2 linked regions of the Homo sapiens genome follow. The protein of the gene in region 1 purifies or fractionates together with the protein of each later gene. This does not show direct contact. Each region holds a gene or a part of one and is shown on either strand. Other genes may lie near its edges. The genes, in order: CPT1A and MTCH2.

The links.
Region 2: the proteins of CPT1A (region 1) and MTCH2 purify together in Homo sapiens (affinity purification with mass spectrometry; 2 studies listed by BioGRID and IntAct, with this or other methods). This does not show direct contact.

What each region holds. Positions count from the first base shown.
Region 1 is NC_000011.10:68,775,701-68,784,277, reverse strand, and holds part of CPT1A (carnitine O-palmitoyltransferase 1, liver isoform), read left to right. Parts: intron 1-2,318; coding exon 2,319-2,507; intron 2,508-3,532; coding exon 3,533-3,638; intron 3,639-8,577. UniProt on the Homo sapiens protein: Catalyzes the transfer of the acyl group of long-chain fatty acid-CoA conjugates onto carnitine, an essential step for the mitochondrial uptake of long-chain fatty acids and their subsequent beta-oxidation in the mitochondrion.
Region 2 is NC_000011.10:47,629,065-47,645,120, reverse strand, and holds the start of MTCH2 (mitochondrial carrier homolog 2), read left to right. Parts: upstream 1-2,561; 5' UTR 2,562-2,655; coding exon 2,656-2,742; intron 2,743-6,069; coding exon 6,070-6,154; intron 6,155-6,315; coding exon 6,316-6,422; intron 6,423-9,549; coding exon 9,550-9,576; intron 9,577-10,386; coding exon 10,387-10,449; intron 10,450-13,409; coding exon 13,410-13,467; intron 13,468-14,033; coding exon 14,034-14,085; intron 14,086-14,506; coding exon 14,507-14,566; intron 14,567-16,056. UniProt on the Homo sapiens protein: Protein insertase that mediates insertion of transmembrane proteins into the mitochondrial outer membrane. Catalyzes insertion of proteins with alpha-helical transmembrane regions, such as signal-anchored, tail-anchored and multi-pass membrane proteins.

The sequences.
Region 1 (8,577 bases):
GATTAGCCTTTCTTACGGGGCTGTGGGCATATTTATTAATTTAGGAAACAGAACAAATGGAAACCAAGGCCCCTGTGTTAGGGTTACATTTCCTTGCCTCAGTGAAAAAGAATCAGGCCGGGCGCAGTGGCTCACGCCTATAATTCCATTGCTTTAGGAGACCAAGGCAGGAGGGTCACTTGAGCCTAGGGGTTTGAGATGTGCCTGGGCAACAGAGTGAGACCCCATCTCTACCAAAAAATTAGCCAGGCTTGGTGGTGCGTGCCTGTAGTCCAAGCTATTCAGGAGGCTAAGGCAGGAGGATTGCTTGAGCCCAGGAAGTTGAGGTTGCAGTAAGCCATGATCAAGGCACTGCACTCCAGCCTGGGTGACAGAGTGAGACTGTGTCTCAAAACATAAAAAAGAAAGCGAATCAGCCCGAGCTTGGTTTTCTCGCAGGTGTGGTGTGTATTGTATAGGAGGGTTTCTCACCTCAGAGCTGTGCACACTCAGGGCCGGGTACCTCTTTGTGGGGGGCACTGCCCTGTGTAGCGTTGGATGCTGAGCAGCAGCCCTGGCCTCTGCCCACCGACTGCCAGCAGCAACCTGTGTGACAACCAGAAGTGTCGCAGACATTGCCCAGCATCAGGGGGACACTGTTGTCCCCAGCTGAGAGCTGCTGCGTTCCAGCAGTGTGACAACTGCTACGCTATCGCTGGGAGTAAGGCGGGAGGGGCAGGTGTTGGGGCCCCTTCTGCAAAGATCAGGAGAGGTTCTGTGCTGCGTGGAGGGGCCGCAGGTGGGCTGTGTCTTGCAGAGGGTGGGAGCAGACCAGGAGGACAGTGGGTGTCCAGGGGGTGGAGCCGCATGCCCCGGGGTAGCAGAGCAGGCAGGAGCCGTGGAGTGGGCTGGGCAGCTGGGCCACGGTGCCAAGCTGGGGAGGGTCCCAGGCACCCAATCATATTTGAGCTTGATTCTGCAACTGGGTGCCGCTTCAGGTGGTGTAGGGTGGGGTGGGGCCGGGGGTGCATGAGTAGGTTAATGTGGGAGATTCTTCTGGTTGGGCAGGGAGGAGGGGCCCTGGACACAGGGATGCTTTTCGGTGGCCCAAGTAGTGAGGGCCTGAAAGAGGGCCAGGCCTGGGAGCAGGAGCGGGATGGAGGAGGATGTGTGCGGGCAAGCCGGCGTTGTTCGGTATCTGCTGTGGTGTTGACAAGGCTGGAAAGAGCGGCGGCAGGAGATGCATCTCGGGTGAAGATGCGCTCATCCGATGCCCTCCTCTCAGAGCCTGGAATCCCCAGCGGAGGAGACGTGGGGAGCCTGAGCCGGCGCCGCGGGGCCTGGGCTCCCTGTGGGTCTGTAGGCGCCTCGGTCCCGATGCCCCCTCTGGATAGGGCCAGATCAGCATCTTACCCATGGGAGTCATTCACAGGAAGGGCTCCGTACGTGCCGGCCACCGTCAGCGTCACCTTTGTTCCCCGAGCGGGGTGCACTGAGGCCTAGCGTGTTTCTAGGCTTATTCGCCCTGCGGGCCGCCATAGCCAAGCACTCCTAGAGAGAAGAAGGTGGGGAGAGAGCCAGATGGCCCCGATCTGGAAGGGTGGGCAGTGGCAGAGGGTCCTGGAGGAGCTGGAGTGAGAGGGACCCGGGAGCACTCGAGGAAGCCCAGCTGGTGGGTCTTCCAAGAAGGAAGTGGGCATCACACCAGTTCTGTGTATTCAAATAAGACGGGCACGGAGACCTCCTTGTGGAGGGGTCACATGGGCATCTGTGGAATGCACCTGGGGGCTGATGGCCTGGGTTCCGACTCTGCCTCAAAATAGCTGTGACCTAATCTTTCCGTGCTTCAGTTTTCTCATCTGAAAAATAGGTACAGTAGCATTGAGAAGATCAGTAAGTTGGTACACAGAAAAGGTTTGGAGCAGAGCCTGGCATGAGGGACGCACTCTTACGCACTTACTGTGACCTGGGCTGCCGGAACTTACCTAGGGTGGTTCCTGTAGAGGGGAGGGAGGGTGTGTCAGGGAGCGTGGAACAGGGTGATCTGGGTCTGCTGCTTCCTGGCGGCTTTGCCCACGGGGCCAGCCTGCAATCTGGCCGTTCATTTAGTCAGCATTTATTGAACAAAAAATACCCACCGCTCCCCATGCTGTGGTCTGGAGACCAGGAGCAGGTGAGAGTCCTTCCAGCAAACAGTCTCAGATGGGGAACATCATCAACATGGAGTTTTCCTTCGAGAAATTCTGAAAAACTGCAAAGGTTTGATTGTGTCATTTCAAACATCACGCTCCATCGCTGCAGGTCGGGCTGCCTTTAATCGTATTTCATCTTCACTGCAGAGTTCCCTGGGCCAGGTGTCGTCAGGCCTATTTTGGACGTGGGAAAAATAAGCAGTCTCTTGATGCTGTGGAGAAAGCAGCGTTCTTTGTGACGTTAGATGAAACTGAAGAAGGATACAGAAGTGAAGACCCGGATACGTCAATGGACAGCTACGCCAAATCTCTACTACACGGCCGATGTTACGACAGGTACCGTCCTTACCTTCTGAGAGACAGGAGTTTGCCCATGAGCTTGGAAGAAATACCCTGTGTGCCTGACACTCACCCCTAAGTATCTATAATGCTAAGAAAGAAGGTGGCATAAAAATATAACCTTCAGTTTTATTTTATTTTATTTTTTGAAATGGAGTCTTGCTCTGTCACCCAGGCTGGAGTGCAGTGGCTTGATCTCGGCTCACTGCAACCTCCACCTCCCAGGTTCAAGCGATTCTCCTCCTTCAGCCTCCCAAGTAGCTGGGATTACAGGCGTGTGCCACCACGCCTGGCTAATTTTTGTATTTTTAGTAGAGACAGGATTTCACCATGTTGGCCAGGCTGGTTATGAACTCCTGATCTCAAGTGATCCACCCACCTCAGCCTCTCAAAGTGCTGAGATTACAGATGTGAGCCACTGCGCCTGGCCAACCTTCAGTTTTCTTCCCTCTGCCAAAACTATCACACATACACAGCCTGAGCTGCAAATCTGAGATTCTTCCCTCCTCTGTGCATGACCACCTTTGTTTGGAGATGCTCATGAGATGCAGGGCTGCCAGGTCCCTGGACTCAGGCAGGGGAGAGTGGCAAACAGGGCTAGGCACAGGGTTAGGCCAGGGTGTTGGCATGTGGCTATCTCAAGTCCTCTTTTTCTTATCTGTAAAGTGTTGGCCAGCCCCGCCCCCTGCAGGGTGGAGCCAAGGATTGGCTGATGAAGGGGTCATGTGCCCACGGGAAGAGCCTCCCACCTCTCCCCAGTTGCCTTGCGATAACAACAGGTCCTGACTTCAGGCTGCCAGGATATAAGCGCTCATCTTTGTGTCTGGGACAGGGAAGAAATGAGTGATTCAGTGTCCTGTTTGTACTTTCACCCTCACTCCACAGAGACTGAGTGTCTGCTCACTGTTAGAGGGACAGGTGCAAAGTGAATTAGTCCATCCAGGATGAAGCAGAGAGGTGCAATGTCTCCTCATTGTTGCCTCTTTAAACACTTAAGTTCCACACATGTGTGTTTCACGTAGGTGGTTTGACAAGTCGTTCACGTTTGTTGTCTTCAAAAACGGGAAGATGGGCCTCAACGCTGAACACTCCTGGGCAGATGCGCCGATCGTGGCCCACCTTTGGGAGGTGAGTTTTCACACTTTTCACTTGAATGTGGAAGTTGCTTTTGAAAATCCAAACCTGGCCAGGCGCAGTGGCGCACACCTGTAATCCCAGCACTTTGGGAGGCCGAGGCGGGCAGATCACCTGAGGTCAGGAGTTCAAGACCAGCCTGGCCAACATGGTGAAACCCCGTCTCTACTAAAAATACAAAAATTAGCCGGGCATGGTGGTGCATGCCTGTAGCCCCAGCTACTTGGGAGGCTGAGGCAGAAGAAATCGATTGAACCCGGGAGACAGAGGTTGCAGTGAGCCGAGATCGTGCCACTGCACTCCGGCCTGGGCGACAGAGCGAGACTCTGTCTCAAAAAGAAAAAACAAAAAAGATAATCCAAACCCCACAGTCAATTTAGTTTTGTAATATTTGCGTGATTATAGAATATGAATTTTTCACTTGTACTAGTAATGCACATGAAGTTAAATCACTAGATTAAAGGCATCCCTGTCTTCCTTTCCCATAACTTAGGTCCCTTGAACAGCAGTGCATCTCCTGCCATCTCCTTAGGGAACAAAAGAGTGAAATGGCAGTTGACTCTCAGGCCGCAGCTTCACAGCAGAAGTGAAGCTCGGTTTTTCCTGGAATAAACTATCCCTTATGTGCTGGATTTCCTAGTGTTTCCTACCTACCGCATTTTTTAGGCCAAATAGAAGCAAGCATGTGAAAATCTGGGTTTATAAACATGCAGCGTGTCTTTTACCTAAGACATCATTTTAATTCTTAAAATTACCAGGTTATTTGAAAACCACAAACCCCTGTCCCCCTGCCTGCACCTGTGGATTGGCCTCTACCATTGTTTTTTTTTTTTTTTTTGAGACAGGGTCTTACTCTGTCACCCAGACTGGAGTGCAGTGGCACAATCATAGCTCACTGTAGCCTTGACCGCCCAGGCTCAAGACATTCTCCCACCCCAGCCTCCCAAGTAGCTGGGACTACAGGTGTGTGCCACCATGCCCAGCTAATTTTTGTATTTTTTGTAGAAACAAGGTTTCCCCATGTTGCCCAGGCTGGTCTTGAACTCCTGGGCACAGGGGATCTGCCTGCCTGGGCCTCCCAAAGTGCTGGGATTACAGATGGGAGCCACCACACTCAGCCTTTTTTTTTTTTTTTTTTTTTTAATAATTCGTTACTCTGAACTGTTTGACCTGTTCCGTGTTTGGCATGAGAAATTAAATGAAAGTTTTGTTTCCTTAACTCACCGGTCAGGTTCTTGTTTAAAGTTGCTAAATTCTAGGATCATCATCCGTAGACTTGACACAGAAAATACTGTGGTCACTTGTTGTGATGAGACTTGAGATCTTTTTCTTTTAAAGCAACAAGCCCCTTTGAGATTCACATTGACTATAAAGACCATCTTTTTGCAGTGTTTTAAATTTTCCTGCTGGCCTAATAAATGAAGTGGAATAAAATGACCTGAAAGTCACGGCGTGTGTGGGAGACAGGGCCCAGCTGCAGGCTGAGCACCTCGCTGTTCTTGATAGGGCATGGAGCCGGGTTTGTGTGTCTGAAATTAGAAATTAGTAGTGGCCAGGCGCGGTGGCTCACGCCTGTAATCCCAGCCCTTTGGGAGGCCGAGGCAGGCGGATCACGAGGTCAGGAGAACGAGACCATCCTGGCTAACACGGTGAAACCCCGTCTCTACTAAAAATACAAAAATTAGCCGGGCGTGGTGGCTGGCACCTGTAGTCCCAGCTACTCAGGAGGCTGAGGCAGGAGAATGGCGTGAACCCGGGAGGCAGAGCTTGCAGTGAGCCGAGATCACGCCACTGCACTCCAGCCTGGACGAAAGAGTGAGACTCCATCTCAAAAAAAAAAGAAAGAAATTAGTAGTAAACTTGTGAAGACATCATAATGTATGACCTTCTTTTTTCTTTAAACTTCTGTGAATGTTTTGAATTTTGACTTTTTTTTTTGAGATGGCGTCTTGTTCTGTCACCCAGGCTGGTGTGCAGTGGTGCGATTTCAGCTCACTGCCACCTCTGCCTCCCCGGTTCAAGTGATTCTCCTGCCTCAGCCTCCCGAGTAGCTGGGATTATAGGCACATGCCACCATGCCCGGATAATTTTTATATATATATAAACCTGACCTCAAGTGATCCACCCGCCTTGGCCTCTCAAAGTGCTGGGATTATGGCATGAGCCACCACGCCTGGCCTTGACGTTTCTTTTTATAATATTGTGTCTGTCTATTTTTCCCCCAAGAGATAAACAAATTCTGGTGCCAGTTTTTTCTTGCAAAGTCTTCGCACTCACTCTCCTCTCTGCCTGGAAGGCTTTTCCCCCTGGCTTCCCCTGGCTCCTGGCCCCGTCAGGTCTTCCTTAGGTCTCAGCTGACCTCACTTCCCCTAGGAATGGCACTGCCCTGCTACCCTCTCCCAAGACTAGGTTAGGGGCTCCTGTCTCATCTTCCTCTACCTCTTTTAATTGTCTTACTTCTGGTTGGAGTCTTGGCAAAACCTCCAGCCACTCCTTCAGCCAAGGGAGGTTTTCTATGTAGGAAAAAGGATAAAAAGGAAAAAAAAAAACATAGTGCTCTAGGCTTTAAGACACCAGTATGACCCTAGGACATTAATACCTGATAAAAAGCAGCCAATATTAAAAGGGCTTTTCACCACCACCAGGGTTCTTTGGCGATGTCGACAAAAGCTGAGAGAGCCTTTTAGCTACAGAGCGCATTGAAGATCAAGCTGCCTTCAGTGTCTCTGGACGTAGCAAGAAGGCACGCTTTAATAAATCTCTGCACAGCATAATAGCCCGGGCTTGTTATACCCCAGGCCAAGGACTTCCCGAGTCCTATATGCCTAAGAGCTGTTGTTTGGCAAAAGAAAAAGAGTCGGGACCATAGGCAGCTGGATCACACAGGGTACATTTATCAAGTAGAGAAATCTACTGGATATTTACAAGATCAGGCTTGTTTTTTAAAGTTCTCTGGATAAGGATAAAGGGATTTTATCTTAGACCAGGGTGGGCACGTAGAAGTAGTGGTGTTTAGTTGTTAGCGTCCAGCAGACAGGATGGCCTGACTCCAGGGACCCCTGGCTGGGGGCTTATGTGATCCATACACAGATGGGGACTGACCTAGTCTCACATGGGGGCCCAGTGCAGTCCCTTAAAGACAGATCTAGTCAAACTTGAGTCTGTTTGTTCTTGTTCTTGTTCTATTTTTATTTTTTATTTTTTGAGACAGGGTCTTGCTCTGCCACCCAGGCTGGAGGGCAGTGGTGCAATCTCAGCTCACTGCAACCTCCAACTCCTGGGTTCAAGTAATTTTCCCACCTCAGCCTCCCGAGTAGCTGGGACCACAGGTGTGCGCCACCACGCCCAGCTGATTTTTGTATTTTTTGTAGAGACGGGGTTTTGCCACATTGCCCAGGCTGGTCTCGAACTCCTGGCTTCAAACAATCTGCCTGCCTCAGCCTCCCAACATGCTGGGATTACTAACATGAGCCACCACACCCGGTCTTGCTCTTGATTTATTTCTGATGTTTCTGTGTCAGGCTCTTCTGGAGCTCTGACCCAGAGCAGGTGGAACCTGATCAAGTCTGTTCGTTCGCTGGCTCAGGTCAGCCTGGATTGTGACCCCCACGTATTAGCGGCACCTTCCACCCGCCCCGCCGCCTCGCCAGCCGACAGTCACCCCGACCTTGTGTTGTTGTTTTTACCTCCCTCACTAGAATGTAAGCTTCCTGAGCACAGGGATTCCTCTTTTAAAAAAACTTAATTTTTTTAGTTGAGATATAAGTCACATACCTTAAAATCCACCCTTTAAAAGTGTACAATTCAGTGGTTTTTAGTATATTCACGAGGTGCTTGTGCAACAGTCACTGCTTAGCCTCCCGAGTAGCTGGGATTACAGGCGTGCATCGCCACACCCACCTAATTTTTGTATTTTTGGTAGAGGCGGGGTTTCCCCTTGTTGGCCAGCTTGGTCTCGAACTCCTGACCTAAAGTGATCTACCCGCCTTGGCCTCCCAAAGTGCTAGGATTACAGTCGTGAGTCACAGAGCCCAGCCTAATTCTGTACTATTTTTATCACCTCCAAAAGAAATCCCTCATTCCTTTCTCCCCCAGGTTCCTGATGACCACTAATCTTTCTGTGTGTATGTATGTGCCTATTTTGGACATCTTATATAGATAGAATCATACAATATGTGGTCTTCTATGTCTGGCTTCTTTTTTCTTTTCTTTCGCTTTCTTTTCTTTCTTTTCTAGAGACAGGGTCTTGCTCTGTCGCTCAGGCTGGAGTGCAGTGGCACAGTCATGACTCATTGAAACCATGACCTCCTGGGCTCAGGTGATCTTCCCACCTCAGCCTCCTCAGTAACTGGGACTACAGCCATGTGCCACCACACCTGGCTAATTTTTAAAATTTCTTGTAGAGATAAGATCTCACTATGTTGCCCAGCTGGTTTGGAACTCCTGGCCTCCAGCAATCCTCCCACCTTGGCCTCCCAAAGTGCTGGGATTACTGAAGTGAGGCACCGCGCCTGCCTGCTTCTTTTCACTCAGCATAATGTTTTCAAGGTTCAGTACGTTGTAACACATACCTGGAATTCATTCCTTTCTAGGGCTGGATAATATCTCATTGTATGGATTGACCACACTTTGTTTATCTCTTCATCAGTTGATGGGCATTTGTGTTGTTTCCACTCTTTGGCTATTATGAATAATGCTGCTCTGAACATTCTGTACAAGTTTTTGTGTGAGCATCTATTCATTTCATTTCAGTGAGTATGTACCTAGGAGTGGAACTGCTGGGTCATACAGGTATATTTCACTTTTTAAGGAAGGGCAAGAATTCTTGTCTGTTTTGTTCACAAAACACAGTTCTTGTCTGCGCTGTCACCAGGGCTTGGATGCCGCTGATGCTACAGTGGTTCCAACCCATAGTAGGTGCCCAATAAACACC
Region 2 (16,056 bases), about 21 Mb from region 1:
CTTCATTATTGACCTCTTGGAAGCTTTTGACATATTGACTATCCTTTCTTTTTCCAAACTTTTCTGTTGACTTCAGTGACATGCTGTTCTAGTTCTGTTTCCTTCCCAGTTAATTCTGCCCCTTTTGACTTCCGTTATTCCTCTCACCACTGCAATATGGGTCAGCAAATATAACCCATCTTAGGGTCATCATACTGAACTGTATCAGGGAATGCCATTCAGATCATAGTCTTTGTGACTGGCCCCACTCTGAGTTATGCAGTGCACAGCCTAGGCAGCTGTACATAGCACCTCTTCCCTTATCTATACTGCTGACTTCGGTTACCTATTCTCTGCAGATTCTTCCCAAAACCTCATCAGCAGCTTCTGCCTCACACCATTGGAAAATATTGTGGAGCAGACTGAATCCCCCAACCACCCACCCCTGGCAAGAGGCTCTGTGCCTCCCCATGCTCACTAGCATCAGTGGGACAAGGCAATATTATTTGGCACCATCAATGCACAAATCCAAGAATAAATAATCCAACCAGGTGTGGTGACTCACACCTGTAATCCCAGCACTTTGGGAGGCAGGTGGATCACTTGAGTTCAAGAGTTTGAGACCAGCCTGGGGCAACATGGCGAGACCCCATCTCTACTAAAAATACAAAAAAAATAGCTGGGCATGGTGGTGCACACCTGTGGTCCCAGCTAATTGGGAGACTAAGGTAGGAGGATCGCTTGAGCCCAGGAGGTGGAGGTTGCAGTGAGCCGAGATTGCACCACTGCACTCCAGCCTGGGTGACAAAGAGAGACCCTGTCTCAAAAAAAAAAAGAAAAGAATCCCCTGCTAAATAGTCTCTCTGGCTCAGCTTTATGTTTCTAGATTCAGTTAGAAGCAACTTGTTTCTTACAACTTTATTTTTTATTTATTTATTCTTTTGAGACTGAGTCTCGCCCTGTCACCCAGGCTGGAGTGCAATGGCGCAATCTTGGCTCACTGCAACCTCCAACTCCCGAGTTCAAGCGATTCTCCTGCCTCAGCCTCCCGAGTAGCTGGGATTACAGGCACCCGCCATCACACCCAACTAATTTTTGTACTTTTAGTACAGATGGGGTTTCACCATGTCGGTCAGGCTGGTCTTGAACTCCCGACCTCAGGTGATCCACCCACCTCAGCCTTCTAAAGTGTTGGGATTACAGGTGTGAGCCACCGTGCCCAGCCAATATCTGTATTTCAATATAAAGTTTTTTAAAAAAAACCCTTTCCTATGCATAATTTCACTTAATGCTCATAATAACCCTGAGAGATACACAGTAGTGTTAGATTTAGATACAAAAACTGGAAATTAAAGTAGCTAAAATGACAAATGGATGCAGTGGAAAAGCCAGGATCCAAATCCAAGTCTTTCCCCTACAGTACTTCACTCTGCTCCAAGCTCAGATTCACCAAATGTTGTTTGATAGAACACGTGAGCTGGGGCTGAAGGAGCAGGGACAATGCCTTTTTCACTTTTGCCTCTGATAGCCTGTAGACTGGTAGGCACTGAAGTATTTGTTCACTTGTGCAATAAATATTTATTGAGCACCTCGTATGTGCTGGGCACTGAAAACACAACCGTGAACAGAGGCTGTCACGGTTCCTGAACTCATGGAGCTTTCATTCCAGTGGAGGAGACATAATTTCAGTGATAATGCTACGACGGGGCACAATGTGGGAGAAAATAAGAGGGAGGTGGCCAGGCGCGATGGCTCCTCACTCCTGTAATCCCAGCACTTTGGGAGGCCAAGGCGGGTGAATCACGAGGTCAGGAGTTTGAGACCAGCCCGGCCAACATCGTGAAACCCCGTCTCTACTAAATAGACAAAAATTAGCCGGGCGTGGTGGCGTGTGCGTGTAATCCCAGCTACTAGGGAGGCTGAGGCAGGAGCATTGCTTGAACCTGGGAGGCGAAGGTTGCAGTGAGCTGAGATCGGGCCACTGCACTCCAGCCTGGGTGACAGAGCGAGACTCCGTCTCAAAAAAAAAAAAAAAAAGAAAGAAAAAGAAAAGGGGGAGGTAATTTTAGAATGGTCAGAGAAGGTTTTTTTGAAAAGATAACATTAATCAAACGAATAAATGAATGAAAAGCCACTCGCTAGCGGATTCATTATTTGCTATACTTATTTAGAGTTTGTCAGTCACGAGACTGTTACGGCTCTGATGCTGAGTATCTTTTGAATCCTATGTTGATGATGCCCAAAAGGCAAGTGCAGAGATGAAGCATAATGAAGAATCCTTTTCAATTTCTTTTCAGTCCTCTGACCTTGCCTCTGCCGTCACGGTCACACTCCCCCACTGACACTCCCATTCTTCTGTTTCCGGACACTTGCGGCCTGGAAGCGCATGTGCAAGAGAAACCGTCATTCCTGGTGAAGGGCGAGCCCCCGGCAGAACGCATGCGCCTCTGTCCCTTAAGCCCCGCCCCGACCTCAGCGCCCCCTCGCGAGCGCCTGCCGTTTCTCGGGGCGGGACGGGGGGGCGGGGACTGGGCGGAGAGGCGCGTGCTGCTGCGTGCGTGCGCGCGCGCCGCGGGCGGGCCAGTGAAACCGGCGGCCCTGGCACGTGACCTAGGACCGGCTCACCGGGTCGCTTGGTGGCTCCGTCTGTCTGTCCGTCCGCCCGCGGGTGCCATCATGGCGGACGCGGCCAGTCAGGTGCTCCTGGGCTCCGGTCTCACCATCCTGTCCCAGCCGCTCATGTACGTGAAAGTGCTCATCCAGGTATGAGGCGTCGCCGCTCCCTACCCCGCCCGGCGCCCCGTTCGGTCGCTGCTGCTCAGGGCGCCTGAGGATCGGCTCAGCCTTGCGGGCCTTTCATTCTCCCGAGATGCTGCTGCTCCTCCGCTGCCCTTTACCTCCCCGCAGGGACAGCTTCCTCAGTCCCGCGGCCCCGCTTGGGGGCCTCGCCGAGCCCTCGCCTCGCCGCCCAGCGTTGAGGCCCTCTCCTCCCTTAGCCAACCGCCACCCGGCCCTGCCCTGCCCGGCGGATCCTCTGAACTTTGGTTCTTCGTCACTGAGGTGGATCCTGGCCGGTCGCCACCAAAGGCTTCCGAACCCTCCCTCTCGCCCCTCCGAAATTCACATTCACCACTACTCCCCCCAAAATCTCAGACGCAAAACACGAAATACTCAGTTGAAGACAAATGTGAAGTTAGGTGGGAACCAACATTTTATTTTTTATTCCTTTTTTTTTTCTTTTTATGCTACTGTTACTACTGCTTTTCTGTTCCGAGGTTTTCGCACCAGATACTGAGAGAAACACAAGGAGCTCATTCAGAAGTGTTAATGAAGGGGTTGCTCTGTCAGATTTCGGAAGGATGCATTGAGCGCTTTCCAGCAGCGGCCCATGTGGCTCCTGACAATGAAAATCACATTTGTCAGAGCTGGAAATTAGTGAAGCTGAGTTTTAGCGAGTTTAAACATGGGAGTTAGTTTCTAATCTACTGTCAAATAATTATTACATGGTATTTTATATTCACATGCAGGTAGGCCAAGTAAGTGATAGACTTAGTGTTTCCAGTTCCTTTGCTATATCCCTGTAATGGGCAGGTCATTCTTTTTTTTATGCTTTTACTGAGAGTTGACATAATTACCTCATGCACTGTGCCTAGGAATGGAACAGTTTTTAGAACCCCTGTCTCGCCGTCTACTTTTCTGTAAAAAATAGGCAAGACACTAGAGAGGGCCCCATTTCTTATTCTTGAGTTGTTGGGAATCCAAATTATTTCTTGCTGAGTAGACCTGTGTGAATTCAGATTCCATATGTTAAAGGCTATTGCAAATAAATTCTTTGTACTTAGAACAAAGACTGATTAGAATGTACTGTAACATCCAAAACAGAATTGGCACATTTGGGGCTAGATAGCATCGGAGGTGACAGCATGTTGCAGTATATAGTAAGAACCCTTGGGGCCGGGCGCGTTCGCTCACGCCTTCCCAGCACTTTGGGAGGCCGAGGTGAGCGGATCACGAGGTCGATGTTTGAGACCAGTCTGACCAACATGGTGAAACCCCGTCTCTACTAAAAATACAAAATATAGCCAGGTGTGGTGGTGCGTGCACGTAATCCCAGCTAGTCGGGAGGCTGAGGCAGGAGAATCGCTTGAACCCGGGAGGTGAAGGTTGCAGTGAGCCGAGATCGCGCCATTGTACTCCAGCCTGGGCAACAGAGCAAAACTCAGCCTCAAAAAAACAAAACAAAACAAAAAAGAACCCACTACTCAATACTTCTCTGGGAGACGGGGTTTTCTAATGATGTTCAGAGCTCTTGCCCCAAAAACTTTGAATATTCTTAATTCTGATTTCACAACATCTATGTGTTGCCAAGTAGCCCAGGAGTTTTGGTGAAATTCCCAAATGCTCAGTTGTAAAAATAGTTACTTGGGCCGGGCACGGTGGCTCACGCCTGTAAATCCCAACACTTTGGGAGCCTGAAACAGGCGGTTCACCTGAGGTCAGGAGTTAAAGACTAGCCTGGCCAACATGGCAAAACCCCCTCTCTACTAAAAATACAAAAATTAGCTGGGTGTGGTGGTGGGTGCCTGTAATCCCAGCTACTCAGGAGGCTGAGGTACGAGAATGGCTTAAACCTGGGAGATGGAGGTTGCAGTGACCTAGATCGTGCCACTGCACTCCAGCCTGGGCGACAAGAGCGAAACTCTGTCTCCAAAAAATAAATAAGTAACTAAATAAAAATAAAAATGGTTACTTGGTAGCACTTTCAGGGAGCTCAGACAGGAGTTATTTGTTTATTTATTTGTTGTTGTTTTTGAGATGGAGTTTTGCTCTTGTCACCCAGACTGGCATGCAATGGCACAATCTCGGCTCACTGCAACCTCCGCCTCCCAGGTTCAAGCGACTGTCCTGCCTTAGCCTCTTGAGTAGCTGGGATTACAGGTGTCCGCCACCACACCTGGCTAATTTTTGTGTTTTTAGTAGAGACAGGGTTTCACCATGTTGGCCAGGCTGGTCTTGAACTCCTGACCTCAGGTGATCCGCCCACCTTGGCCTCCCAAAGTGCTGGGATTACATGCATGAGCCACCACGCCAGCCCAGGAGTTACTTAATAGGACAGATTAAGAGTCACAACAATAATCAAAACTATGTCCTACAGCATTCATTCTGTCAAGTATCTGTAGTGTTAAAAATCCTGGGTATATTGTACAAAGACCATGGTAATCATTAACTATATAAAATGGACTTCATTAGCTGTTAATGACAGCCTGTGTTTTTTTGTTTGTTCGTTTGTTTGTTTGTTTTTGAGATGGAGTCTCGCTGTTGTCGGCCTCGGCTGGAGTGCAGTGACACAATCTCGGCTCACTGCAACCTCTGCCTCCCGGGTTCAAGTGATTCTCCTGCCTCAGCCTCCCAAGTAGCTGAGATTACAGGCGCCCGCCCCTACGCCCGGCTAATTTTTTAGTTCTAGTAGAGACAGGGTTTCACCATGTTGGCCAGACTGGTCTCGAACTCCTGACCTCAGGTGATCCATCCCCCTCGGTCTCCCAAAGTACTGGGATTACAAGGCATGAGCCACTGCGCCCGACCGACAGCCTGTTCTTCTAACATGAAGTTAGCTTGTAATTCTTTCCTAAGTGAATTATCCAGCTATATCTGCATTTGCCTTTTGAGTGTTTTGTCTGGGTTGCCAAATATGCAGCTGATGCTGGCGTAATGGATGTCTTCTAGTTTTGTTCAAATACAAAATGTGCCTTAGATTTTATTTAGAAGGTATTTTTGAGCCCCCTTAGTAAACTGTAGCTTTCCTAACGCAAAAGTTCCCTTCTTTCAGTTTGATATTAGCCTATTTCAGCTACATGGTTTACGTCATAGAATTTGAACCAAAATGAAACTTGGAGTTTATTGAACTCAGTATTACCAACAGAAGAAAAACCTACAAGAATGATGCTTCATCATTGCCTTGGAAAACCTATGCTGCATTTTTACTTGTGTTTAAAAATAACCCAAATTGTGTTCTTTATTCAAGACCTTGCAAGCAAGACATTTCTGGAAATATTGCTTTAATATTGATATATTCCATTGTTTTTAAAGGTGGGATATGAGCCTCTTCCTCCAACAATAGGACGAAATATTTTTGGGCGGCAAGTGTGTCAGCTTCCTGGTCTCTTTAGTTATGGTAAGTGCCTTTGATTTATTTGGGTTTGCATGACGTTGAGGACTGTGATAGGCAGGAGTTGTTATTGAAAGAAAATATATAGAAAGCTTGTTTCTTTGAAATTGTAGTATATCCATTTCTCTTGACCAGAACTTGACAACATCTCTGACTTGTGTTCTTAGCTCAGCACATTGCCAGTATCGATGGGAGGCGCGGGTTGTTCACAGGCTTAACTCCAAGACTGTGTTCGGGAGTCCTTGGAACTGTGGTCCATGGTAAAGTTTTACAGGTAAGAGGAAAATTAAATCAATCTTCCCATAGATGTTGCTTACCTGTTATGCATAGTTTGTTCTAAATATCAAGAGCAATTTAAAAGATACATTTATAACCCTGTCCTTTCTTCCTCTTGAAAAACACTTTCTTTTTTTTTTTTTTTTTTTTTGAGATGGAGTCTCACTCTGTCGCCCAGGCTGGAGTGTAGTGGCGCGATCTGGGCTCACTGCAAACTCCGCCTGCCGGGTTCACGTCATTCTCCTGCCTCAGCCTGAGTAGCTAGGACTACAGGCTCCCGCCACTGCGCCCGGCTAATTTTTTGTATTTTTAGTAGAGACAGGGTTTCACCGTGTTCTCAATATCCTGACCTCGTGATCCGCCCGCCTCGGCCTCCCAAAGTGCTGGGATTACAAGCATGAGCCACCGCGCCCGGCGGGACTCAGTGAAATTGTTGCTGTTACTTCCATGAAATTTACATATGGAAAGGCAGTTGTCATCTAGCCAAAGAGGTTTGTGTATAGACTTAGAGAAAAAGAGAAAGTGCTGCTTGAGACTAAGTTACTTTATGTAACTGTAAAGTAAGACAAACTTGAGGTAACCAGGTACCCTGAATATGTTCCAAATGTAGTCCAGTGAAATATTACAGGGTTGGTACTACACTTAGCATCCAAAGCTGCTTGTACAGTCAAGAAGAAGGATCTATGCAGGGCTGAGAAAATTATTAACCTTTACAAGAAATAATTTTGTAAACTGAACAAGAATTAAAATGAAATTCAGGAAATGTAGAAGACAGGTTAGATAATTATATCGATGGAGTAAATAACAAAGTATAGAAACAAGTGAAAATTTAGAGACCTGAAGCTATTAGAATTAATTCTAGCCAAGGACCTGGAATTTGGCCAAAATACATTACTTTGCTTTATCTTCACATTTGTTCTCTTGCCCGTGATTTTTTTAAACACAATTCTTTTTACAAGAGAAAATGTTGTCTATTTTTGAAATCTGATATGGCTAGAAAATAATAAAACTGACATTAAAAAATAAGAAAACAATAAAACTGGTGGTTACACAAGAAGGAGCTCTCAATTGATAATTTTATTTTCACCTAGCTCACATTCTATTTCCAAAATACGCCACAAAAAATTCCTCTTGCAAGAATTTTTCTCTGGGCTCTGGCAGTATTCATGATCTCTTCTCTAGAAGAGAAAAAAAAAACCTCTTGCTTGTTTTAGAAACCATCAGATACAAAGGAGAAAGTGAGGCGATTTCAGCTCTTCAGTCTTAATATCAATTCTCTGTCCTTTTATGCAGGGAAGAAAAGAGTCTTGCCCTAATTTGGTATTGGTCATGCGTTTTCCATGAGAAAAGTGGGAACCCTGGGCTATGTTTTTACTGACTTATTTTCTGTTAAAACTGAAAGTTCTTGGCCAGGCGCAGTGGCTCATGCCTGTAATCCCAGCACTTTGGGAGGCTGAGGCGGGTGGATCAGCCGAGGTCAGCAGTTTGAGACCAGCCTGGCCAACATGGTGAAACACTGTCTCTACTAAAAATACAGATGTTAGCCAGGCGTGGTGGTGGGCGCATGTAATCCCAGCTACTCAGGAGGCTGAGGCAGGAGAATCGCTTGAATCTGGGAGGTAGAGGTTGTAGTGAGCTGAGATTGAACCATTGCACTCCAGCAGTGAGCCGAGATTGCACCATTGCACTCCAGCTGGGTGACAAGAGTGAAACTCCATCTAAAAAAAAAAAAAAACAGAGTTCTTGAATTTTCTTTTTTGTTGTTGTTCTTATTTTGTAATTATTTCTTTAAATTTATTATTATTTTTTTAGAGACAAAGTCTCACTATGTTGCCCAGTCTGGTCTTGAATTCCTGGGCTCAAGCAGTCCTCCCTCTTCGGCCTTCCAAAGTGTTGGGATTACAGGCGTGAGTCACTGCGCATGTTCCCTTTTCGTTTTTTGGGTTTTTTTGTTGTTTTTTTTTGAGACAGAGTTTCACTCTTGTTGCCCAGGCTGGAGTGCAATGGCATGGTCTCGGCTCACTGCAGCTTCCACCTACCGGGTTCAAGCAATTCTCCTGCCCCAGCTTCCCACGTAGCTGGGATTACAGGCACCTACCACCACGCCCAGCTAATTTTTGTATTTTTAGTAGAGAGGGGGTTTCGCCATGTCAGCCAGGCTGTTCTCAAACTCCTGACGTCAGGTGATCCGCCTGCCTCAGCCACGCAAAGTGCTGGGATTACAGGCGTGAGGCACCATGCCCGGCCCCTTTTCTTTTTTTCTGAGATGGAGTCTTGCTCTGTTGCCCAGGCTGGAGTGCAGTGATGTGATCTCAGCTCACTGCAGTCTTTACCCCCCGGGTTCAAGCAATTCTCCTGTCTCAGCTTCCCAAGTAGCTGGGATTACAGGCGCCCGCCACCAAGCCCAGCTAATTTTTGTACTTTTAGTAGAGATGGAGTTTCACCACGTAGGCCAGGCTGGTCTCAAATTCCTAACCTCAGGTGATCCACCTGCCTTGGCCTCCCAAAGTGCTGAGATTATAGGCGTGAGCTACCGCACCCAGCCTTCCCTTTTCTTTTTTTTTTTCTTGAGACGGACTCTTGCTCTGTCACCTGGGCTGCAGTGCAGTGGCGTGATCTTGGCTCACTGCAACCTCTGCCTCCTGGGTTCAAGTGATTCTCCTGCCCCAGCCTCCCTAAGAGCTGGGATTAAAAGCGTGCGCCCCAATGCTCCGCTAATTTTTGTATTTTTAGTAGAGATGGGGTTTCACCATGTTGGCCAGGCTAGACTTGAACTCCTGACCTCAGGTGATCTGCCCACCTCGGCCTCCTAAAGTGCTGGGATTACAGGCATGAGCAACCACACCTGTCCCCTTTTCTTTTTTCAAAGAAGAGTTTTCATGACCATTTGCTTTTCTTCCAACTGACCAATATGTTAAACTTAGCAACAAGTTTATCTTGGAGATCCATATTTCCAGTTGATTAATGAGTAGAAGTTAACTGAAGATTTGCAGCTTAAAAAAAAAAACAAAAACTTTAAAAAAAACTTCAGCTAATTTACTTTCTGTCAGTAGAGTTTTCATTTTATGTCTTCTTTCACATGACACTGTAATAACCCTAATCATCCTTTTTCTTTTTTTCTATAGCATTACCAGGAGAGTGACAAGGGTGAGGTATGTTGGAGCTGATTTCTAAGCATGAGGGCCTTTCCCTTGCAAGTTGTTACTGCTTTTGGGGCCTCTTTTGGAGAAAAGCCAAGTAGTCAGTCTCCTATTCATCTCAGTGAGTGTTGTCCTATGGGGTGGCCACCAGTTTGGACAGTTCTGTTTGAAACCATCAGGATGGCTGGGCATGGTGGCTCATGCCTGTAATCCTAGCAGTTTCGGAGGCCAAGGTGGGAGGATCACTTGCATCTAAGAGTTTGAGACCAGCCTGGGCAACATAGACCCCTTCTCTACAGAAAATCAAAGATTAGCGGGGCCTGGTGGCACATACCTCTGTATCTCAGCTACATGGGAGGTTGAGGTGAGAGGATCACTTGAGTCCAGGACGTCAAGACTGCAGTGATCCATGATCACATCACTGCACTCCGCGTGAGTGACAGAGCGAGACCCTATCTCAAAAGAAATAAAAACCGTCAAGATCGGCCGCCCATGGTGGCTCATGCCTGTAATCCCAGCACTTTGGGAGGCCGAGGCAGGTGGAGATCACGAGGTCAGGAAATCGAGACCATCCTGGCTAACACGGTGAAACCCCGTCTCTACTAAAAATACAAAAATTAGCAGGGCGTGGTGGCGAGCACCTGTAATCCTAGCTACTTGGGAGGCTGAGGCAGGAGAAGCACTTGTACCCAGGCGGTGGAGCTTGCAGTGAGCCGAGATTGTGCCACTGCACTCCAGCCTGGGCGACAGAGCGAGACTCTGTCTCAAAAAAAAAAAAAAAAAAAAATCAAGATCTCTATTTTCTTTGATTTTGATTTCCAGGAGTTAGGACCTGGAAATGTACAGAAAGAAGTCTCATCTTCCTTTGACCACGTTATCAAGGAGGTAAGAGATGAATTACATCCTGTGCTGTTTGCCCAGATCAAACTGTGGTGTTGCAACTATGGAATCAGAATCATCAGGCCTGTGTGTTCAGTGTCTGTTCCCAAATGAAATTAAACCTTCAAATTAATTTGGGCTTTACTACATGTATAACATTAAAAAGAGAGAGGATCAGTGCTTGCTGTTCAGAATAGATGCATTTCAAGAAAACTCATTTTGCCCACACATTCCGTCTTTAGAATACTGAAAGTCTTCTAATAGTGTTGAAAACCTCAGGAATAAAAGTGTTAAAATAGGCCAGGTGTGGTGGCTCACGCCTGTAATCCCAGCACTTTGGGAGGCCAAGGCAGGAAGATCACTTGACCCCAGGAGTTAGAGACCAGCCTATGCAACATAGTGAGACTTCCTCTCTACAAAAAAAATAGAAAAATTAGCTAGGTGTGTGGTGGCACATATCTGTAGTCCCAGGTACTCGAGAGGCTGCGGTGAGAAGATGACTTAAGCCCAGGAAGTTGAGGCTGCAGTGAGCTATGATTGTGCCACCATACTCCAGCCTGTGTGATAGAGCAAGACCTTGTCTTTAGAAAAAAGTATTAAAATAGCGACCAGGCCCTTTGTATGTTGGATAGTATCTATGCAGAAAGGCTCTTTTGACATTTTTCTGACTCTGAAAAGTTCCTCATCACCCATTTCCCACCCCCATATGCTGCCATAGGTGTTTCTGTGCCTGGCTTTCAGAACTATTCTCTTATTACTTAAGTCTTCACATTGTCTTAATTGTCATTAATGAAGTCACAATTATCCAGGAAATGCAGCCATCCAAAATACATATTCCAAAGGCTGGGCGCAGTGGCTCATGCCTGTAATCCCAGCACTTTGAGAGGCCGAGGCGGGCGGATCACCTGAGGTTGGGAGTTGGAGACCAGCCTGACCAACATGGAGAAACCCCGTCTCTACTAAAAATACAAAAATTAGCCAGGCATGGTGGCGCATGTCTGTAATCCCAGCTACTTGGGGGGCTGAGGCAGGAGAATGGCTTGAACCCGGGAGGCAGAGGTTGTAATGAGCCAAGATTGCACCATTGCACTCTAGCCTGGGCCACAGGAGTGAGACTCCATCTCAAGAAAAAAAAAAAAAAAAAAAAAAAATATATATATATATATATATATTCCAAAACAAACATTACTAAAGGTCTGGAAACCAGATAAATTAGCTCTATTTTCTGTAAATTTTCATGAAATTAGTTTGCTTAAAAGCAGGGATACGGCCGGGCGTGGTGGCTTACACCTGTAATCCCAACACCTTGGGAGGCCGAGGCGGGCAGATCACGAAGTCAGGAGATTGAGACCACCCTGGCTAACACGGTGAAACCCCGTCTCTACGAAAAATACAAAAAAATTAGCTGGGCATGGTGGCAGGCGCCTGTAGTCCCAGCTACTCGGGAGGCTGAGGCAAGAGCATGGCGTGAACCTGGGAGGTGGAGCTTGCAGTGAGCCAAGACTGCGCCACTGCACTCCAGCCTGGGAGACAGCGAGACTCCCTCTCAAAAAAAAAAAAAAAGCAGGGATACATGTATTACTATGCAATTAGTATTTTCCTTAGTTTGCCCATCCAGTCCCATAGGATCTTATGCCCTTGGAGAAGGGGTGAGGGCTGTCTTAAAACTCAGTGACTAGGCCGGGTGTGGTGGCTCACACCTATAATCCCAGCACTTTGGGAGGCTGAGGCGGGCAGATCACGAGGTCAGGCATTCAAAACCAGCTTGGCCAACATGGCGAAATCCCATCTCTACTAAAAATACAAAAAAAATTAACTGGGCATGGTGGTGTGTGCCTGTAATCCCAGCTACTCAGGAGGCTGAGGCGGGAGAATCACTTGAACCTGGGAGGTGGAGGTTGCAGCAAGCTGAGATCGCACCACTGCACTCCAGCCCGGGCAACAGAGCAAGACTCTGTCTCAAAAAAAAAGAAAAGAAAAAACTCAGTGACCATAAAGATACTGTTTAAATGCAAAAGCCGGCCAGGCACGGTGGCTCATGCCTGTAATCCCAGCAGTTTGGGAGGCCGAGGCGGGCGGATCATGAGGTCAGGAGATCGAGACCATCCTGGCTAACACGGTGAAACCGTCTCTACTAAAAAATACAAAGAAAAAAAATTAGCCGGGCATGATGGCGGGTGCCTGTAGTCCCAGCTACTTGGGAGGCTGAGGCAGGAGAATGGCGTGAACCCGGGAGGCGGAGCTTGCAGTGAACCGAGTTCGCGCCACTGCACTCCAGCGTGGGTGACAGAGCAAGACTGTCCTAAAAAAAAAAAAAAAATGCAAAAGCCAATGGTAGACCTGCTTACATTTGCAATCCCAGAACCTAAATGCAAAGATTATAATTTAATTTTCTTTATTACTTCCTTACAGAGCCCTAGAGTAGAAAGATAAACTAGGAAAAACACAGCAGCTCTAAGATACTGCACAGTTACTGGGTTGTAGTCACAAAACAAAATTGTTCTCTTCTCCCAAAAATGTGAGTAGAGACTAAATGGAGCCTGTCATTTATCTAGAATGATGTCAGACTCTCCAAAATCACTTACCAATAAGAGAGCAACTTAATAATCTCAATAAAGGCCTCATATTTTTTATTTCAGCTTAATGACTTTGTTGGTGACCTTTCCTGTTTCTTTATTTTTTTCTCTTACCTGTAAAATTGAGAAAACAACAGAAGCCTGCTTTGCAGAGAAATTTTGAGAAGTAACTATAATAGAACATTGAGATCCATGAGTGAAAAGTATGATAAAATGACAATGAATGAGATCTTTCACATCCCATTCAAACTCTTCTTGACTCCAGCCAGGGCAGGAGGGCTGTGTCATTCACTTTCTTATCCTATACCACGATATCCACCCACATTCCTTCTCACAGGCATTTGAGTGTCATTTGTTTAGATTTCAGAAGTGTGTGTTGATTGTTTCTAGACAACTCGAGAGATGATCGCTCGTTCTGCTGCTACCCTCATCACACATCCCTTCCATGGTATGTTTGCAGTTGACAACTGACCTTTCTTTTATAACCTGATCTCTCCTGACCACTTAGATAGGTTGACGTGGGAGTTGACTAAAATGCCTTGCCTGCATGTTTTTGTTTGCTTGCTTGTTTTGGCTTTTATCCAATTTATCCAGATAGCAAAATGTCTTTAGGTGGAAAATCTTTTTTTTTCCCAGGGCTATCAAAATCTATCTTAACATAGTTTTTTTTTGTTTGTTTGTTTTTTGTTTTTGAGACGGAGTTTCACTCTTGTTGCCCAGGCTGGAGTGCAATGGCACAATCTTGGCTCACTGCAACCTCAGCCTTCCGGGTTCAAGCAGTACTCCTGTCTCAGCCTCCTAAGGAGCTGGGATTACAGGTGCATGCCACCACGCCTGGATAATTTTTGTATTTTTAGTAGAGATGGGGCTTCATCATATTGGTCAGGCTAGTCTTGAACTCCTGACCTCAGGTGATCCGCCCACCTCGGCCTCTCAAAGTGCTGGGATTACAGGTGTGAGCCACCGCACCTGGCCTTAACATAGTTGTAAACATCTTTTCTCTATATTCCACAGTGATCACTCTGAGATCTATGGTACAGTTCATTGGCAGAGAATCCAAGTACTGGTAAGTATTTTTGTTTTCACATACTCAAGGAGATCTTTTGAAGCCAAAGTACTAGAATAATACTACTTTGTATTTTTATGATACCCTTACAATTTGTAGAACAAATTCGTATCTGATGTCATTTGATCTGCACAAAAAACAATAAAATGGGAGAAAATATACCCAGGCAGGTTTAGTAGCCTACGTAGGATTTCAGAGTAAGTTGCAGAGCCCCTGACTCCATATGACTATACCCCTAGGTAGTTAATATTTTCACTTCTATCTCCAAATTTAGCTATCTTTGCAGAGTGAGAGAGTGCTAGAAAAGTGTGAGGGAAGGAGGTCGTGGATTTGACCTTGTCCAATGTGATAATTGAAATTATTTTGTTTATAGCTCCAAAAGAATCTTAATATATTTTACCTTTTCTTCTTGTGTACGTAGTGGACTTTGTGATTCCATAATAACCATCTATCGGGAAGAGGGCATTCTAGGATTTTTCGCGTGAGTAAATGTTGATTAGTGTGTAATTTTTGCATGAGTGGGAAACGTTTTCTGAAAGTAAGAATAGTGAGTCTTTGTTTAATCCTTGGGGAAAACGTACTCCCTGGGCTTACCTCACGTTACATTCTATTTAGGCCCCTTATTTTTTTTTCTTTTTTCTCTGCAGAAAGGCATATTTAGGCCCCATATGACTAGAATTATCTTGTAAAGATCCCAAACCTTTACTTCTAGATACTTAAAACATTTGAGGCCGGGCGTGGTGGCTCACGCCTGTAATCCCAGCACTTTGAGAGGCCAAGGCGGTTGGATCACCTGAGGTCAGGAGTTCAAGACCAGCCTGGCCAACATGGTAAAACCCCACCTCTAGGTGTGGTGGTGTGTGCCTGTAATCCCAGCTACTCGGGAGGCTGAGGCAGGAGAATTGCATGAACCCGGGAGGTGGAAGTTGCAGTGAGCTGAGATTGCACCACTGTACTCCAGCCCGGGTGACAGAGTGAGACTCCGTCTCAAAAAAATAATAATAATTAATAAATAAATAAGGAATTTCTTTTTTTAACAAAGGACTTAATTCCAAGTTTCTACCCTTGTAGTAAACTCCCAATTCTATATAGATAATAAAATGAGAAAAATTAAATGTTGAAAAATGGGGAAATCATCTTAACTTGTATTTTCCTTACCGTAAAAGAGTAAGTTTTTGCAAGGCTTGAATTTACTTTGGAAGAACTTAGACTACTACCCTCATTCTTCTATGAGGAAAAATTTTGCATCATTACCGAAATGGTGTTTTTTGTTTTTTTTTTTTTAATTTTCAGAGTATCTCCCCATACGGATTTTGAATATCATAAATACCCTGTGAGATAGGCAGGACAGCTATAATTAGTATCACTTTAGAGATTAAAAAACATTGATGCTCTGAGAGTTTCATCTGCTGCCTGTCACATCGCTGCTGAGTGCTGGAGCTGGCATTTGAAGCTGGTCTTCAATCCGTGGGGAAATGCTCTTCCCACTATTCCATGCTGCCTCACCTAGGTCACCCAGACCCTAGAAATGTGGTTTTTGATGCCTCTCATCTGTATCTGTACTTGGGACCATTCTTGCTTTGTAATTTTTCTCGTCTTTTGCTCTGCCAAATATGAATATCAGATAGCTTAGCAAAATCATTTTTTTAAGCTAGTCAAAGCAAAACAATATTTAAGTCTCTTCTGCAAAGCACCTCGCAAATCTTTTGCCTCCCTGCTTACAGTTATGAATAGTAAGGTGAGCCACTGAGGGTATAGCCGACCTGCATTTTAAACATAGGAACAAAAGTCACTGGAGATCAGCTTCAAGTACAGCTGTGTTAACGAGAATGAACTAGGTATGCGGGCTGGATTCTGGTGTTTGATTCCTTTTTTACTTCCCTAGAATGTTTTGTGACCTCTAATTATTTGACAAACATTTGTACTGAAGAGCCTGTCATGTTACTGATCACATTTTTTGGTTCTTATTTT